Linked DNA regions of Homo sapiens: region 1 is linked to region 2. A link means that fine-mapping ties the variant in region 2 to the expression of a gene that starts in the linked region. Tissue or cell type: whole blood. Region 2 holds a variant in brackets; the other region holds the start of a gene. All regions are shown on one strand. Distances are from middle to middle. Region 1 holds the start of CCNG2 (cyclin G2). Region 2 has its middle 31 kb from the start of CCNG2.

Region 1 (2,908 bases), 31 kb after region 2:
ATATGCAAAGGGACCTAGTTTTAAAATTCCTTAGCTGCTCCGCAAAGAAGAGCGCTGCCAAAGCTATGTTGTGTGCCTTCCCATATTTCACAAGTAACAAAATAATTCACAGAAAACACATAGAAGAACAGAAAGGAGAAATCTCTTCCCAGGGACTATCTGATTATGTAGATTAGAACTCACGAATATGGTATTTTCTAATTTAGGAGGGAGAGAGTAAACAAATAAATGTTCCAGGGCAGTCAACCACATGCCCCATTGATATTCCGTGTGAAAGTGTCTCTGGCCTAAGGCACCTGGTTTGTTTGCTTTTTGTCCCGTCCTGGGAGACGTGTCGCCTATAATAACAACGCTAATTATAATGAACAATAAATGATAATTTATGGGTTACCAAGGACCAAGAAGCTCTGGGAGTCTTCATTAAAACAACAGCACTACAACCTCTGGAGGTACGCCGTAATTATTAGATGTTTACGTACCCTCATCAGCGTGCTAAGTTTTTATTGAAAAGCCCCTCCTTCAGTCCCTCCTGAATTTTTTTAAATTATGGAAAAATTCCAAGACACAGAACTAGAAAGAATACTGTAATGCAGCCTCGAGTACCCATCACCCAGCTTCGACCCTCAACTTTTTGCCTATCTTATTTCACCTCTCTTCTCCATTTTTTTTTCTCTTGGACTGTAAAATTTTAAAGCAAATACCCAAACTTGTAGCATTTATTGAATATTTTAGTAAACGCCCCGACAATGTTATAATAATTTGGTGGGTTATTGCAAAATGGAACGCCAAGACAAAATAAAGAAGGAATGTAGAAAACTCTCCCGTGGCTGAAAAGGCTGTCACAAAGGTTAGCTGTTAGGAGAAGCGCCGCGAGCGTGACATTCCCCCAAGAAAGGCGGAGGCAGCCAGGCGAGAAGGCACAGCCCCGCAGGGCAGGTAACTGAATACCTTCTCCGCTGCACACCCAGGCATGCGCAATCCAGACCCTGGAGTTGCTAAGGCCCCAAGGCAGAGAGAGGCTCAGGCTACGGAGAAAGCCAATCAGAGGGCTCCAAGACTGATAAGTTAGCCAATCCAGATTCGAGGGTGAATCAGGTCCTCAGCATGCCCATCGCCCCACCCGCATCCAATCAGAGAGCCGGCTACTTTGGGCGGACTTTTCAAAACAGCGAAAACAAAACAAATCGGGGACCTTTAAAAGGCGTAATGAGACCAGAAACGATCTCCTTCCGCCCCTCTGTCTTCCCCCGTTCCCCAACGCAGATCAATCGCGGAATAAGCCCGACGCCCAGATTCCGCTCTCCGCCCTAGCGCCAGGCGGGAGGACTGGCTCGGCAAAGCCAAGGAGAGCTAGGGAGGCCGCGAGAGAGGCTCGAGACGGCAGCTTAGGGGCGGGACTCTTTTTTAAAGTCCGTGGAGGAAGTGCAGGATCCCTCCGCGGGGAGTCACGTGCCCCGCCCCCTTGGGGGCGTCGAAACTCTTAACAAAAACAAGGGGCTCGGGGAGGTTTCCGCTGAGGCGGCGGGGGTGCGGCGGTGGGCTGGTCTTCCGCGGCCGGCGTTGCGCCGCGGCGGAGGGTGGGCGCGCGGGGAGCGGGATGGAGCCGGGGCTGTGAGGCCGAGGCGGCGGTGCCTGGGAGGAAGGGTCGGATGCCGGACCGGGGGCACCGCTGAGGCGGTGGGTCCCCGACCTGCGAGACAGGTTTGGAAGCCCCCGCTGCGCCCAGTCCGTGCGGACCGCGAGGCCGCGGGCGGGTGGAGGCGCGTCTCCGGCACGGTGAGTGGACCCGCCCAGGGCCGCCGTGGGTTTCTTTGTTCGTGGTGGGGACTGTGGGCTTTGAGGAGGTTGGTACCATGCGAGTGCCTCGGTGCTGCCTGCTCCTCATCCGCTGGAGCGACCAGGGTGCTGCCCTCAGCCCCAGCCCCGGGGGGAGCTGGCGCCCGCGATGGACAGATAGATGCTCGTGGGGTGGAAGGAGGTTGCGACTAGGTTAAGGGCAGTCTCCGCCTCGGTGCCCCCCGCCCCCGCTCGTGTTGTCACGGGGACTTGCTGGCGTGGTGCTTCTCGAATTGACAGCCCCGGGGCTCTGCAGAGTTGTGGGGCCCCGGCATCAGTGGGTGGACGGGTGTTGTCCCTACGGGCGCGGGGCGGGCGGGCTGGACTGGACTTCTCTCCCCGGACCGTAGCCGGGTGTGCCGCGCCACCCCAGGGCTCCTGGGACGGGGGTATCCGCCTCTCGGGTAAGTCCGGAATCGGCGCTGCAGCAGCGGACGGGAAAAGCTGGGGGCGGGACTCTCCGAGAGGGGCTTCTGCAGCTGGGCGCCCCGGGCGGGCGGGGCTCGGGAGTCTCCTCCCTCCGCTTCTTTGTTCAGTCGCGAGACTCTCCCTCCCCTCCCCCCTATTGTGCAACACCCCATCCCCGGGACCCGCTGCAGTCGCTCGCCACACTGCAGTCCCCTGGGCAGAAGGCCCTCCCTGGCGCGACTTCAGGTGGGGCAGACCGAGGGGACGCCGGCGCCCGCGGACAGTTTCCTGTTTGTGAAACGCCAAGAGGCCAGGGCTGGCCGGTCTTACCCAGCGCTGGCCGGCGGACCTGACCACGGCTCCTCCCCCTGCCACACCTCCCTGGCCGTGGTGGGGATTGCCCTGGGGCTCTGGCGGACGTGACTGGTCCCTTCACCCGCTCCTTGTCGGGGTGTGCTGGGGCGACCCTTGCTGGAGGTACTGGCCTCAGCCCTTTCTCCCGCTTCCCCACCCCTCTTACCCCCAGATTACATTCTCTGTGTGGTGTCTTTACTGCAGATGAAGGATTTGGGGGCAGAGCACTTGGCAGGTCATGAAGGGGTCCAACTTCTCGGGTTGTTGAACGTCTACCTGGAACAAGAAGAGAGATTCCAACCTCGAGAAA
Region 2 (2,908 bases):
TATTTTTAGTAAAAACAGGGTTTCACTATGTTGGCCAGGCTGGTCTTGAACGCCTGACCTTGTGATCCGCTCCCCTTGGCCTCCCAAAGTGCTGGGATTACAGGCGTGAGCCACCGTGCCCAGCTGGGAAGATTTATCTTTAGAGGTCTGTGAATATTCTGTTTATTTGCTTCCAGAGTATCTCATACCTATTTATCTCCACCTCCCCCATGCCAGCTTTTCCTCCCACATCACATATGCAGTTATTTACACTCAGAGTGCAAATACAAACACACATGCAGAGTCAACTTCAGAAACTCTCTTTCTAAATTGTTTTATTTTTTCTGCCAAGTCCAAACTTTGTCAGCTCTGATGGAGCCAGATGATTATTCATGAGGTAAATGCCTGGTATAATTCATGGTTATGAAAGCATTTATTGATTCATAGCTTAATTTATATGTAATTGATGAGCAAATGTTTTTTGTTAGGCTATTAATTTCATTACGAGTGTTTGGGCTTATATATCCTATGCAAAAAGATCTTTGTGCTTTTCTCATTGGTCTCTATTCCCCAATTTTCTGATTTCATACCTTCAGTATACTGTAATATTTTGAGCAACCTATCCCTCTCCCTCCAAAAAATAGGGCTCCTTGGACATAATCCAGCTCCCCACTCTGTGGACATGCATGGTTCCCTGAAGATTATAGACAGAGAGAAAGTGGTTGCCACACAGTTTCTCTAAGTCTAGGAGAAAGTTTGATGAAATCCACAGTGTTAAAGAGGCATTCAGAAGGCTCTGTGCTCTCTCACTGAAGCAATACGGTTACTTTGGTAGTAACCTTATGAGACTCCAACCTCAGTTCCTTTCTGCCTTTCCTTTATGTATATCTATACCGAATGAGGCCAATTTTTTCATGTGCATTAAGGCAGATATGCAGAAATGAGCTCATCTTAGGCTCCTCTTCCCTATCCACAGCAGGGTGTGCCAAGCCCAATATCTCAGTATTCTAAGATTCCAGAAACGTGTTCTGTAAACATCAGAACTTCCAGACTTCTATCTTCAGCAGGAAGGTGCTCCGCCTCCTGGGCTCAAACGATTCTCCTGCGTCAGCCTCCCAAGCCTGGGATTACAGGCATGTGCCACCACGCCTGGCGAATTTTGGTATTTTTAGTAGAGACGGGGTTTCATCATGTTTGTCAGGCTGGTCCTGAACTCCTGACCTCAGGTGATCCACTGGCCTCGGCCTCCCAAAGTGCTGGGATTACAGTTGTGAGCCATAGTGCCTGGCCAAAATTTTTTTTTTTATTAGCTAGGTGTTGTGGTGCATGCCTGT[A/G]TTACCAGCTACTCAGGAAGCTGAGGCAGGAGGATCCCGTCAGCCCAGGAGAGTAAAGTCTGCAATGAAGTTTTTTCTTTTCTTTTCTCTCTCTCTCTCTTTTTTTTTTTTTTTTTTTTTTTTTTTTTGATACAGAGTCTTGCTCTGTCGCCCAGGCTGGAGTGCAGTGGCGTAATCGCAGCTCACTGCAACCTCCACTTCCTTGGTTCAAGCAATTCTTCTGCCTCAGCCTCCCAAGTAGCTGGGATTACAGGCACTCCATGCCTGGCTAATTTTGTATTTTTAGTAGACGGGGTTTCACCATGTTGGCCAGGCTGGTCTTGAACTCATGACCTCAGATGATCACCCCATCTCAGCCTCCCAAAGTGCTGGGATTAGAGGCATAAGCCAACGTGCCCGGCCAAAAACATTTAACATAAAAAGTATGAAAGATGTAGTTATTCTGAAGTAAAACAGACCACTTAAGGATTTATTATTCCCCTTTCCTAACACTGTAGGACCTTTGAGAGGTCCAGTGACTTCACTTGGGCCTCCAATAAGAGAAGTGTAAGGCTAGGATCTCTGGGTTCTCAAGCTACTCTTTTCACCACAAGATCACACTTCCTTCCTCTTTTACAACTGGTATGCAGAAAAGAATATATTATAGAAGCAGCTGGTGTGGTAACACAGAGTATGATGGAAAACATCACAATGTTATTTAGCAAGAGTACAAAATAAAATCTGAATTTACATGGCTCTTTTAAGAAATTGTTTTGTAGATTTGATAAGTAGCTCTCAATATGTAATTTAAATAAATGAAACAATTTATTACAAACCTACCATATGTTAGGCACGGTGGTAAGTACTGGAGATACAAAGAATATGCAAAATGAAGTTCTCACTATCATGTATTAAAAAGAAGAACAAACCACAGTGTGTTAGACATTATTGTTGCCTAGCCCAGATCCCCCTTATAGCCTGGGCCGTTCATCCTTCAGCTGCTCATGTGCCTGGGCCAACAGCTTATAGCTGTGACTTTCTCCAGAGGCTTGACTTTGGCTAAATGGATCCACCTCACTGGAGGCTCCTGAGACATTATACCCCCCTCCTCCCCAAGGGTGACCAAGGACCAACTTGTTTCTACTCTCCAACACTCTTCTGTCCCAACCCAGACTTTTCCTGGAACCATATCCTTGCTCAGCTCCTTTTTATCTGGCTCTTCCCTTTCCTTACAGATTTTTTCTAAAGAGCATTCGCTCAAAGTACAGACACTAGAACCCCTTCCTGAGGCTCTGCTTCTACAAAACCCAACCTAAGACAAGAAGTGTTGCTGTAAGTCATAGATAAGTCTCCTAGACACATTGTCTAGGGAAGGATCTATAACAGATCTGTAAAAGTTTTTATATACCCCAATATTTCCTATTGAGACAGGATGTTTCCTTGATCTCCTTGACCCCCTTTGTGGGCAGGAACTAGAGTGGCTTATTTCACTCAGTCTGCAGTCCATGAACGTTTAAGTGTTAACAGCTCAGTGAAGGGTCAGGGTGACAGCCTCTTGCACCTGCCATTTTTGACACCCGAGTTCTTGTTCGGTGTCCAGGAAGAATCAGGTCACA

Evidence for each region. PIP is the estimated chance that this variant, and not a neighbour inherited with it, causes the effect.
Region 1: it holds the start of CCNG2, and the variant in region 2 is fine-mapped to the expression of CCNG2 in whole blood (TOPMed, PIP above 0.99).

The regions. Positions count from the first base shown.
Region 1 is chr4:77,155,731-77,158,638 of GRCh38, forward strand. It overlaps CCNG2 (cyclin G2), which reads left to right and starts at 1,477. Exons shown (of 8, transcript NM_004354.3): 1 at 1,477-1,776; 2 at 2,803-2,908. The coding sequence starts at 2,803. LOC101928864 (a long non-coding RNA gene) reads right to left here and starts at 2,334. Exons shown (of 2, transcript XR_244659.5): 1 at 1-2,334. RefSeq lists silencers at 1,036-1,155, 1,576-1,645, 1,676-1,785.
Region 2 is chr4:77,125,149-77,128,056 of GRCh38, forward strand. No RefSeq gene overlaps it. Among named protein-coding and RNA genes, the nearest start is that of CCNG2, 31 kb to the right of the region's middle. The variant A/G (reference allele first, on the strand shown) is at 1,314.